Regions from separate parts of the Homo sapiens genome. Here all the other regions are reported to be linked to region 1. Evidence: microRNA targets listed by miRTarBase, many of them from high-throughput screens and not tested one by one. Region 1 holds a microRNA gene; each other region holds the end of a gene's coding sequence.

Region 1 (4,251 bases):
GCCCATCATCATAACATCGTTAATAATGAAGTTTAAACACATAATAACGTAAGCCTAGTCCTTTTTTTTACTCCTAAGTGGTGATAGATGTTGCAATAGCATTGCTAGATAAATAAATAACCTAAAATAACATTTGGAGAAAAGCTAGTATTCAACAAAATAACCTGCATGGCCTTTTAAGTAATGAATTAACTTACCAAGAATCTTTGGGATCTAATTTCTTCAACCAATTTACTTTAGGGTCCTAGAAGTTGAATTGTACAAAGTACAGTTACATTTTGACACCTGATCCAAGACACAGTAATGTATACCACATTACAATGTTTCAGTCAATATACAGCACATAAAAAAAGTGGTCCTATAAGAGCTGAAAATTCCTTATTAAATGTTATTTCTAATATTGAAAAGTCAACATTTTTCTCCTACATTTTTACTCATAAACATAGCAAAATGTTACAGGTCTCATTGTCACCACTGCAATATGCATACTGTGATGGAAGCATAACCTGTCTCAATTTAGCCACATTAACTATTTTTGGACACCATGATCAACAGTGCCCATTCTCTAGAATGAGGCATTGTAAAAGTCTTTAAAGCTTAGTAGTGTATTTGTACGAAGTTCTTGTTATGCTGGCAGTGCTACTGATAGAGGGAAACAAGCAGAATCAATAGAAACAGAGAATCTTACCTTTTTACTGTAGGTGGTGGGGATCTACCTGGTTCTCAATTTGACACCCTGGAAAAAAAAGCATTGCTTACTATTTTAGAGTATATCAAACTGAACACTCTGAGAAACCTACACAAATACTGTATCAGTAGAAATACCAGGTTTAACAAGCACAAAGCCAAGAAAACCAACGATGCCAGATACTGAATTTCTATAGCACTGACCTTTGAACACCCTAGCAGGTGTAAACTGCTGAGTGCAGATACCATGCAGTGCAATTATGACTGAACTGTACAACTCGTATTCCCAAATTTGCAATATTGCTGAGAAATGCTTTCACAAACCTCTCAAATTCCTTTAACAAGTACAATAATTTGAGCTTTTTTCCTAATTGTCACTGTAATAAGGAAGCTACATTAACTACATTTTAAGCTACAACTCTAGTCTTTGCCTAATCTTTGCCCAGTCTCTCTATAAAACTTAAAGATGGAATATATACATGTAACTTAACAGATCAGACAACAAACGTCAAGCTCATTGTTGCTCAAACTGCCAGTTACACAAAATTCTTTTTATGTAATTCATATCCCTATTGATTCAACATATCCACACAGGTTTACGTGACTTTAGGATGAAATATGTGTAACTGCCAGTTGAATAATGATGCAAAGAACACAGGTAGTTTCGTTTGGTAGGTATAGACATGCAGTCTCTTCATTTTCCTTCTCTATACAAATATATACATTGTAATATTTTTGCCAGTATCTTACTAATTCTGTGTTATACCTGAAATACTGGGATGGTGTAATTTCTATTTTTCATCTTTTGAGTCCTTGATTATTATAAGTTAAATATTTTACTTACCTCTCAACATGAATGAGTTCAAATCACATTCATTCCTATAGAAAGTACCAATTAAAGATTTAGAAAGGATACATTTCCAGTTATTAAAACTAAAACCCAAGTATAAATTTAAGATCCAGTTTATTATACAGCCATATCCAGCTCTGTCAGAATTAAGTTTTAGTTCATGCCCGTTATCATTCAGCAGTTGAACAGTTAAATTCATCATCTGAACTGTAATCATTATTTCCCAAAAGATTATACTGTCACCAATTAAAACTTACCTAAGCGATCACTCAAGAATGGTACAGATGTGTGGAGTATGCCAATACCTAAGGTAAAAAAGTAGATTATCTGGTTTTTCATAACGTTTAGCAACCGTCTTTTTCAAACTTTTAGCAACTGTCTTGTAATTCCTTCCCACAGATCTAACAATAGTCCTGTGAGTAAAGTAAAACCACAGAGTTACTCTATGAGGCGTTTCCAACGATGTGCAGGCTACAGGAAAAGCCCCATCGGGATAGACCTCAACCACTATTTACAAGGTTTTGATTTTTTTTTAAAGACACAGGATCTGCCATGTCTTTTAAAAATCGTGTGATTCTTGCTGAATCACTTGAGCCCAGGGGTTCGAGGCTACAGTGAGATGTGGCAGGATCACATCTCACTGTAGCCTCAAACCGCTGGGCTCAAGTGTTTCTCCTGCCTTAGCCTCCAGAGTAGCTGGGGACCACAGGCACCACTGTGTCCAGCTAGTATTTATACACATAAATAACAAAGTCTAACACTCCATAGGAAAGAAATTATGAGCAGAAACTGCAATATGCTCTTACAATATTGCCAACTGCAGAAACTTCCTACTACGTTAATCACAAAAACAATAATTTCACAATCACGTTGTGCTTAGGAGCCAGAGGAATGATAAATAAAAAGTAACATCAAGTAGCTCCTTTACATGAACCAAAGGAAAAAGATTTAAACTTAAGATTTAAGTTTAAAGTCTAACTGTTGTTATGAACTTCAGTATTGCAACAGAGGATGTTGTTTTCCCAATTCGAAGATTTCAGCAAATTTTAATTCTTGGCTCAAAATTAATTGTCATCCATTATAAAATACAGGAATATAATGTGCCTGTAAGTTACGACTTTGGCATTATATAACTTTTAATCAAACTCTACATCATTCAAATTTATGAATTCTTATGACCTGTGTAATCATCTTTTATTATACTATATTTTGCATTAAACCATAAAATCCTCTGCCTCATTTTAGATTGTGCATTAATTCAAAATAATGCTGTAGGCTTCAAGTAGGAAATCCAAAGTTCTGATTATTGCTACAAACTAACAAATTCAGGACCCTCTAATGCTTGCAACTAAAATGAATCTGACACATCACTATAAAATGTGTGAATCTAGGATTCTTCTTTTCAGAAATCAGTATAAATGGGAATTAAAAGCATGGTAGAAATGTCCCTGAATAAAATGAAACTTGCTCTGACAACATACTGTTTCCTACACATAAACAAATATGATGTGAAAACTCAAATTGAGACATACCTTTAACTCCAGACACCATGTTCTCAAGATAAAAGCCTTTAAAACAAAAAGCCATTGTGTATATCATCAACATGAAATTGGAATGCAAAATTAATACTGCTGAGGATTTCCCTCATATCCCATGCTGTTTATCTATTCTACAGGCCTGGAATCAACCTTTTTTTCTTAAGAGACAGGGTCTGTCTTTGTTACTCAGGCTGGAGTACAGTGGTGCCATCAAAGCTCAGTGCAGCCTCCAACTCTGCCTCAGCCTCCCCCCTTTCTGAGTAACTCCAACTACAGGCACATGCCCCAGTACCCAGCTAATTTTTAAATTTTTGTGGAGATGTGTTTCTTACTTTCTTGCCTAGGCTGGTCTTGAACTCCTGGTTTCAAGCAATACTCCCACCTTGGTGTGGGGATTGCAGGCTTGACCCATTGCACCTGGCCTGGAACCAACCTTTATGGCTATCAATACTCCCATCAATCAACTGTCTCAGGTATCATAATATCCCTTCTTATATGTATCAAAACTCATACTGAACAATGAGTTCTGGGTTGCAAAAGAGGATTTATTTTTTGCACCTATCTGTAAGTCTTTGTCCACGTTAAACAAAAACATACATAAGTGCAGTCCCAAAATGCACTACATAGCAGAGTAGTCAGCTCTATCGTGGTGATCAAAATAATGAACATCGGGGTAATGACTGGTTCTCCCCAGGTATACATGTTGAATAAATGTGTATGCCTTTTCTTGAACTAATAAAAAGTGAAAATGGTAGTTAAAAGTAGTATTAGGCCAGGTGCCATGGCTCACACCTATAATCCCAGCATTTTGGGAGGCCAAGGCAGGCGGATCGCCTGAGGTCAGGAGTTCGAGACCATGGTGAAAGCCTGTCTCTACTAAAAAAACAAAAACTAGCTGGGTGTGCTGGCTAACGCCTGTAATCCCAGCTACTAAGGAGGCTGAGGCAGAATCGCTTGAACCCGGGAGATGGAGGTTGCAGTAAGCCAAGACTGCGGCCATTGCACTACAGCCTGGGTGACAGATCGAGACTCTGTCTAAAAAAAATAGTATTAAAGATACTCTAAATTTGGAAAGGGAAATGAGGTTATTACAATACTAAGCATCTGACAGGTCACTTGTCATGGCTGAACAAAGCTGGGATAAAATTACAGCATTTCAAATCCCCTCTTCAAGAT
Region 2 (4,251 bases), not on the chromosome of region 1:
TTTTGTTTTTTGTTGTTTTTTATTTGAGACGGAGTCTCGCTCTGTCACCCAGGCTGGAGTGCAGTGGCGCGATCTTGGCTCACTGCAACCTCCGCCTCCTGGGTTCAAGCAATTCTCTGCCTCAGCCTCCCAAGTAGCTGGGATTACAGGCGCCCGCCACCACGCCCGGCTAATTTTTGTATTTTTAGTAGAGACGGGATTTCACCATCTTGGCCAGGCTGGTTTTGAACTCCTGACCTCGTGATCCACCCGCCTCAGCCTCCCAAAGTGCTGGGATTACAGGCGTGAGCCACCGCGCCCGGCAAGAATTCAAAGTTAAAACAGGTTACCACTTTCACCTATTACCATCAGGTTGCTTATTTTTGTTTTATGTTTTTTATTTGTATGCATGTTTACTTTATGTTTCAGTTTACTACCCCCTAAGGCAGCAAGAGAGCAGGAAGATAAGCAAAATAGAGATGTTTTTGACAACTTGGCACTGAGAGACTATCCTAAGGGAATAATCTGAAATACATAAAAACATTTTATTCACAAAATTGGTCATCACAGCATTATTTACAATACTGAAAATCTGGAAATAGCCTAAATTTCTAACAATTGAAAGAAGGTTAAGTAAATTATAAGACTACACAATAAAATATATTACCAGCAATATATCTTTGTGAAAATCTATAATAACCACACATAATACTTAGTAAAAAAGAACATAAATTACATGATAAAGAATATGACCAGAACAATGCAAAAAATTCACACCCCCAAAAAAGACAAGATATTATATGGCAATTTTGTGGTAAAATATTCATGTATTTGTGCTGCATTTCTAATTTTTCCGTAACTGACACATCAGTTTTATAATTAGGAAAAAAATACCTTTTTAAAGTAAAGCGAACACAAGATTCTTTAGCAATGTTCATTCCATCCCACAATAGAGTCTAGAGAGTCACAAAAACCTCAGCCTCCTTCGGGAGGGGGGGAGCTTGGTAGTGAAAAATGGTCATGAATGAATGGGTGAAGAGAGGGATGGGACAACCTAGTAGGAGGGAGGTAGGGATAGGCAAGGGAAAGGTGGGGACCAGTAGTCATACTGGTCAGCCAAGGAAAGGGGCATTGTGGAGTCAGGGAAGACTCTGACTGCTCAACAGAGGTCTGTCTAGACCCAGTAGTAGGCACTGACGGTGTTATCAAAGGACAGGATCAAAGAGAGATTTTAGGAAGACACGTGGATTATTTTAGGGACAGGGGAGGAAAGAGGAGGGGTGGGTAAACTACTTGGAAAGAAAGGGAGAAGGACTGAGAAGATGGCAATGGGAGTGGGGAGGAAGGGGCTGATTGCCTTTGTGACCTCACTACCAAACATACTTTGCTCACCTCCAGATAAGTCTTTGTGGGGCAAATGCAGGATAAAGAAACAGCTCATAAGAGGCACTTGCCAACATCCAACAAATTCAGTTCAAAACCACAGAAAATCTAGGAGTCTCCAAAGAAAATCACAGTCCTGCTGTGTTGCCGAGGCTGGAATACAATGGCACGATCTTCATTCACTGAAACCTCCGTCTCCTGGTTCAAGCGATTCTTGTGCCTTGGCCTCCCAAGAAGCTGGGATTACAGGCATGCACCACCACACCCGGCTAACTTTTGTATTTTTAGTAGAGACGGGGTTTCACCATGTTGGCCAGGCTGGTCTTGAACTCCTAACCTCAAGTGATCCGCCTGCCTGGGCCTCCCAAAGTGCTGGGATTACAGGTGTGAGCCACCGCATCCGACTTCTAACGCACTGGGTTTTAACAAGCCCCTCAAGTAGTTCTGATGCTCCCTCATGTTTGTGAGCCACTGAATGAGGGCCATGCAAAATGTCTAGAATCACTAGTTCTGCTGTCAGCTAAACCACATGAAAGAACCCCTGCTCATGTGAAAGAGAGATTTCTACAAATAAAGTGACGGGAGGACCACTAATAAGTTATGTCCAGCTTAGTGGGGTTGGGGAAAGGTTATATGAAGCAACAAAGATACAGTTTCTCTAAGCCAAGTAAAGGTAAAGAACTGTGGAGCAGGCAATAAAGCCAAATGCACTGAACTATGTCATAAGGAATTTACAGGCTGTATTGTAAAAGCCACAGTGAACATGATGACAGCAACAACGAGGATGAAGAACAGCAAAGAAAAAGCTGAGGGAAACCATCGACCAAAGCAAGCGGAGGCTCAAAAGAGAGACGAGCTTCAGGATCAGGAAATGAACAGGGCCCTTCAGTCACGGAGAAGTCGTTGTTGCCAGAACAGTCAGTCACTTAACTGCTTAGAAGATCACCGTGTTACCATATAACCTCTATTGTAGGCTAATTAATTTTTAAAATCTGTCTAAAATTTACTGATTTTAATATAATATCTTGTCATTTTTGGCAACAATACACTGAAGTAACAATGTAGTTTGCTGTATTTTGTTTCACAAATATTTACCTGGAAACACTGGAGACTTTGTAAAGAGAAAATTACTAAAAATTACTCCTTCACTACAGGACAGTAGATATTTAATATTTATTTAGAAAGCTATTGACACTTCTGATGACTACTGATAACTGAGAAGATTCAACATGTTATAAATATGAGTTGTAAATATTCCATCCCTTTTGAGATTATATACACTAAGCTTTTTACTACCACTGGCCTTTCTGGATACTTTCATATTTAGAGAATATAGAACTACATTCTGGGAGATTGACAATGACCTAATATTACACTAATGAAAAGTCTTCACAGTCCTCAAAATAATTTAGAATTTAATGTTTTCTTTAATAAGCAATTAAAATGGAATATTTTCTGCCTCCTGAATAAATACATGTCTGTAACCAACCATCCCTAAAGAAGGATACTAATATATTTTGAGTGATTCAATCCACCCATGGATATAGTCACATCTTTAAATGTTTTCCAGTGTGAACAACAGTCTTTTAATAGATGGCCATTGAGTTCAAGGGTCATATTATTTGCTAACAAATTATTATTTGGGCCAGAAAGTATCTGAAAAAAGTTTAACCAAATTTCCTACACATCTCATATCTCTAGTTTATTAAGCATTATTTATTATTTGGTGTAAAAATTCTACATTAATTACTTCATACATATTTTATCTTGAGATTATGAAATCCCATGGTCTTAGAAACAAAAGATAGACTTTAAGACACTGGCTTCTGCTATTTTTTTTTAACTTTAGATTTGAAAAAGAAACATGGATTACATGTTAACATAATATTTTGAATATATAGGGCTCATAAGATATATTATTAAATTATAAACAAAATAATCAGGAACTTAGTGTGGTGCCTAGTTTGATATATGATTACTTTTTGAAATGCACTAAATTCCACAAATAATGAAAGTATTCTTTGTGTATAATGTTATGTTTGGTTATTATGTATGGTCTTCGTATCCAAAGGTATGACATAACTTGAGTTTGTTTGCTTTGTATTTATTCAGTAAATAAGCCGTAACTGTTTTAAAAAGAGGGAAATTAAAAAAAAAACTGGTCCAATTACCAATTATAAATTTTAATAAAGACTAAACGAAAAGGTTTGGCTGTTACATATTCTCAGGCCAAATTGTTGATGCATGTTTGGATTAACTAGCCCTCAGGCTGCTTCCAATATTATGGGTAATCACAAAACGACCAGCTCTAACTCCTCCTCTCACCAGCTGGAAGGGAGCACATCACATTTGCCATCCATGGTTGGCAAAACTCAAGGCATCAACAACTGGAAAAGATCTCCACCTTGGGAATCATTATACATATTGTGATCCTGCAATGGGTCAGAATCCACAAAATACAGTTCCCCTGCATGGATGTCAGAAAAGTTAGCTAGAAATTCATCAGGATTGAAGCCAACCCACACAGTATACCTATAGTCTATGGTGCGTATGGAATAGCCCATGATCTTTATATCTTTTAAACTCGGCTTGTCAGAATTCCACTGAGGGATGTCTGAAGGCCGGGGATACTGGCTATAGGCAATCAGTTCACGGGGATTACCAGGGAGGTACGGATCCTCTTCCAAGTCACGGAATCGAAAATGCTTCAGAAGGTTCTTGCCTTCTCTGCACAGCTCAACGTGAAATGAAGGAACGGGGCAGCGAGGTGGAACCTGCAGTCCTGCAAGTCCAGCCAGCGTGGGAAAAAGAGACACAAGTTCCACAAGGTCCATGGATTGCCTGCCTGAAACAGGAAGCGACAGAGCAGAATGGGTTACATTATAAAAG
Region 3 (4,251 bases), not on the chromosome of region 1:
AAAGTCTTTAAATCTCACTCAGGCCTTTCTTATCATAAGATAATTCACACTGAAGAGAAACTCTGCATATGTGAGGAATGTGGCAAAACCTTTAAGTGGTTCTCATACCTTACTAAACATAAGAGAATTCACACTGGAGAGAAACCATACAAATGTGAAGAATGTGGCAAAGCTTTTAACTGGTGCTCGAGTCTTACTAAACATAAGAGAATCCATACTGGTGAGAAACCCTACAAATGTGAAGAATGTGGAAAAGCCTTTCACTGGTGTTCACCCTTTGTTAGACATAAGAAAATTCATACAGGAGAAAAACCCTATACATGTGAAGACTGTGGCAGAGCGTTTAACCGGCACTCACATCTCACCAAACATAAGACAATTCACACTGGAAAGAAACCCTACAAATGTAAAGAATGTGGGAAAGCCTTTAACCACTGCTCACTACTTACTATACATGAGAGAACCCATACGGGAGAGAAACCCTATAAATGTGAAGAATGTGGCAAAGCTTTTAACTCATCATCAATTCTTACTGAACATAAGGTAATTCATAGCGGAGAGAAACCCTACAAATGTGAAAAATGTGACAAAGTCTTTAAGAGGTTCTCATACCTTACTAAACACAAGAGAATTCACACTGGAGAGAAACCCTACAAATGTGAAGAATGTGGCAAAGCTTTTAACTGGTCCTCAATCCTTACTGAACATAAGAGAATTCATACTGGAGAGAAACCCTACAACTGTGAAGAATGTGGAAAAGCCTTTAATCGGTGCTCACACCTTACTAGACATAAGAAAATTCATACTGCCGTCAAACGCTATAAATGTGAAGAATGTGGCAAAGCTTTTAAACGGTGCTCACATCTTAATGAACATAAGAGAGTTCAAAGAGGAGAGAAATCCTGCAAGTATAAAAAATGTGGGGAAGCTTTTAATCACTGCTCAAACCTTACTACGTAAGAATTTTTACTAAAGAGAAATCCTACAAATGTAAAGAATGTGGCAAATTCCATAAATCTTGCTCAAGGCATTGAAATCACAAGATAATTCATACTGGAGAGAAACACTACAAATGTGAAGAATGTGGGGAAAGTCTTCAACCATTGCTGACAGCTTATTGCACAGAAGAAAATTCATGCTGAGAAAAATTCTGATTTTAAAGAATGTGGCAAAGCATTTAATAACTACTATGAACTTACTCATCAGAGGTTTTGTGCTAGATAAAAGCAATGTAAGTGTAATGATACACATTACATTTATCTGTGGAAAGATGTCACCAAATAAAAGCCTTAGAGTACACAAGGTGTAATGATAGTGATACATTACATTTGTACATGGAAAGACTTCAAAAATATAAGCCTTAGAGTACACAAGAGTTTTTATACTGAAGAAAAACATTACAAATATAAAGATTGTTGCAATACTTTTACTTATGTTACAGATTTTGTTGTACATAGGAGAATTTATACTGAAAGGTAACCCTCTAACAGTTGCTCAAATTTTATTCCATTTTAGATAATTTACATTGGAAAGAAACCCTACAACTGTAATGAATATGAAAAAAATTGTTTAAAAAGTACACCTTAGAAAACACTAGTTTAAGGCCGGGCGCGGTGGCTCACACTTATAATCCCAGCACTTTGGGAGGCCGAGGCAGGCGGATCACGAGGTCAGGAGATCGAGACCACGATGAAACCCTGTCTCTACTAAAAATACAAAAAATTAGCTGGGCATGTTGTCGGGTGCCTGTAGTCCCAGCTACTGGGAGAGGCTGAGGCAGGAGAATGGCGTGAACCCGAGAGGCGGAGCTTGCAGTGAGCCGAGATCGCGCCACTGAACTCCAACCTGGGCGACAGAGACTCTGTCTCAAAAAAAAAGAAAGAACGCTAGTTTATATGAAAGCATTTAACAGATGCAGTAAATATAAAAAATTAATAAAAAATTAAGTCTAAATGAACATCAGAAGATTCACAGTAGAAACCACTAAGACGCTAACACTTTCAATGTTATTCTAAATCAGGGCATTGATTATAAAGAGTAATTCAAGGTTAACATAATTTAGTTAGCCTAAACAGAAATAGGAGATTAATATTTTGAGACTTAAACAATTATATTCAAAGTACACTTTTTGCATTGAAAGAATTTTAGATTTTTACAAAGGCAAATTTTGATGTAATTGAACTCTCAAATTACTTGATGCTGTGTCTTTATTCCTAGTGTCTGTATGAAAGCATGTGGTCAATTTCTGCTGCTCGGGGTTTGAGAAGTTCTATATTAGGATGTCATTTACATACTTTTCAACAGAAGATTGAGGACACTGAAATATGAGGTGTGTGAAGAAAGTACACAGAGAAACTTTTGTGGTTGACTTATAAAACTTGTAAGTGCTGCATGAGATAGATGTTCAGAGTAATAGTCTTGTGCATTATTCAAATTTTAGTAAATTGTTTTACCAATTGCACATTAGATAGTATAGTGGATTTTGTAATGCTTTTCTTAGACTGTGTGAACTTAGTTTCAATAAAACAATTATTTTTAATGTGTTAAGACAGTTGTGCATTGAATTAGGTGTTATCCTGCCACCAACATTAACCTATTTTACCTTACTCAAGTCTCTAGGTAACAGACGGTAACAACATACTATTCAGTAATATAGTGGAATGGCATCTCTAGTGATTCTTATCCTTAGTGACTTTAAACTTCAAATACGTTGGAGAATATTGTTTCCATAGGTTACATTTTTATTATTTTTCTTCTAATTATAGAGTCATTAAGATGATTATTATGAAAATTACACAGGCATATAATCAAAAGCCATATATTTCTGAATCTTAAGTGAGTATGTAGAAGATGTTATCTCACATTTTTCTTTGAACATGCAACCTCTGTGGCCTTCCAGACACACATAGACTCTTTAAGTTTTCACTTACATGAAAGTTTAATATACAAATATGTTACTCTAAAGATAAAGTGTAAGGGAATTATGAAGCAAGTAATTGTATTTGAATGTGGATGTGTACCTATTTTGAGAAGAAAGAAAATATGTTAGAACAAACTGGTAATTTTTAAAGTGTTGATAAGTTACTACCAAACTGGAAACCTCAAACAATTTCAAAGCAAATCTATTTTTCCCATTTGTATTGAATTCATTTTTTCAAAATCTTGTGGTTCCTAGTTCAGAATCTCCTTAAGTAAATCTAGGTTTTACTTGCCTGGTATTGATAGTAGACCTAATGCATAATTTTCTTTTTTTTTTTTTTGAGACGGAGTCTTGCTCTGTCACCCAGGCTGGAGTGCAGTGGTGCAATCTCTGCTCACTGCAAGCTCCACCTCCCAGGTTCACGCCATTCTCCTGCCTCAGCCTCCCCAGTAGCTGGGACTACAGGTGCCCACCACCACGCCCAGCTAATTTTTTTGTATTTTTAGTAGAGACGGGGTTTCACCATGTTAGCCTGGATGGTCTCGATCTCCTGACCTTGTGATCCACCCGCCTCAGCCTCCCAAAGTGCTAGGATTACAGGCATGAGCCACCATGCCCGGCCAGTTTTCTTGTTCCAAAGTTTATAAAGTATTCTTTATATAATCTGCTCGGGAATTATTGGAATAATTTTTACAAAATTTAATGGTGCTTGCAAAATAATTTGAACATGTAATTTCATAGTAAATATGTTGTAACATTTTATTTAGTACATTTTTTTTCAATTGGAGAACTCTAAGCCAATCTTTCCTTTGTTGCTCTTTTAATTTTTTTTTTTTTTTTTTTTTTTTTTTTTTGAGACGGAGTCTTGCTCTGTCGCCCACGCTGGAGTGCAGTGGTGCGATCTCGGCTCACTGCAAGCTCCGCCTCCCGGGTGCACGCCATTCTCCTGCCTCAGCCTCCCGAGTAGCTGGGACTACAGGCGCCCACCACCACGCCCGGCTCATTCTTTTGTATTTTTAGTAGAGACGGGGTTTCACCGTGTTAGCCAGGATGGTCTCCATTTCCTGACCTCGTGATCCGCCCGCCTCAGCCTCCCAAAGTGCTGGGATTACAGGCGTGAGCCATTGCGCCTGGCCTTGTTGTTCTTTTAATTTTTATAATTAACATTGAGTTTATTGATCTTATTGGGTTAATTTCTTTAGGTGAACACTAGGGAGATGTCATCAGTCATGGTAGTGTTTGTTTCTTTTTTTATCAACTCTTACGTCTCTACATCAGACATGGTGTTGTTTAGTCATAAATGAAGTGAACAAACACAGAAAAGCACTACC

Evidence for each region. The annotated mature microRNA hsa-miR-1304-3p reads UCUCACUGUAGCCUCGAACCCC and lies in region 1 at 2,136-2,157, opposite strand. An mRNA with a match to its seed (bases 2 to 7 or 8) in the 3' UTR can be bound and repressed. Matches are read on the target gene's strand: a 7mer-m8 pairs with bases 2 to 8, a 7mer-A1 pairs with bases 2 to 7 and ends in A, and an 8mer does both.
Region 2: the mRNA of IDS is a reported target of hsa-miR-1304-3p. Seed matches in the 3' UTR shown: 7mer-m8 at 79-85.
Region 3: miRTarBase lists ZNF682 as a target of hsa-miR-1304-3p. Seed matches in the 3' UTR shown: 7mer-m8 at 1,813-1,819.

The regions. Positions count from the first base shown.
Region 1 is chr11:93,731,556-93,735,806 of GRCh38, forward strand. It overlaps MIR1304 (microRNA 1304), which reads right to left and starts at 2,209; the gene lies at 2,119-2,209. TAF1D (TATA-box binding protein associated factor, RNA polymerase I subunit D) reads right to left here. Exons shown (of 6, transcript NM_024116.4): 6 at 4,012-4,251. SNORA1 (small nucleolar RNA, H/ACA box 1) reads right to left here and starts at 578; the gene lies at 449-578. SNORA8 (small nucleolar RNA, H/ACA box 8) reads right to left here and starts at 944; the gene lies at 806-944. It also overlaps SNORD5, SNORA18, SNORA40 and SNORD6.
Region 2 is chrX:149,479,012-149,483,262 of GRCh38, forward strand. It overlaps IDS (iduronate 2-sulfatase), which reads right to left. Exons shown (of 9, transcript NM_000202.8): 9 at 1-4,207. The coding sequence ends at 3,735. Among named protein-coding and RNA genes, the nearest start is that of IDS, 24 kb to the right of the region's middle.
Region 3 is chr19:20,002,714-20,006,964 of GRCh38, reverse strand. ZNF682 (zinc finger protein 682) reads left to right here. Exons shown (of 4, transcript NM_033196.3): 4 at 1-2,547. The coding sequence ends at 960. It also overlaps the pseudogene BNIP3P12. Among named protein-coding and RNA genes, the nearest start is that of ZNF682, 35 kb to the left of the region's middle.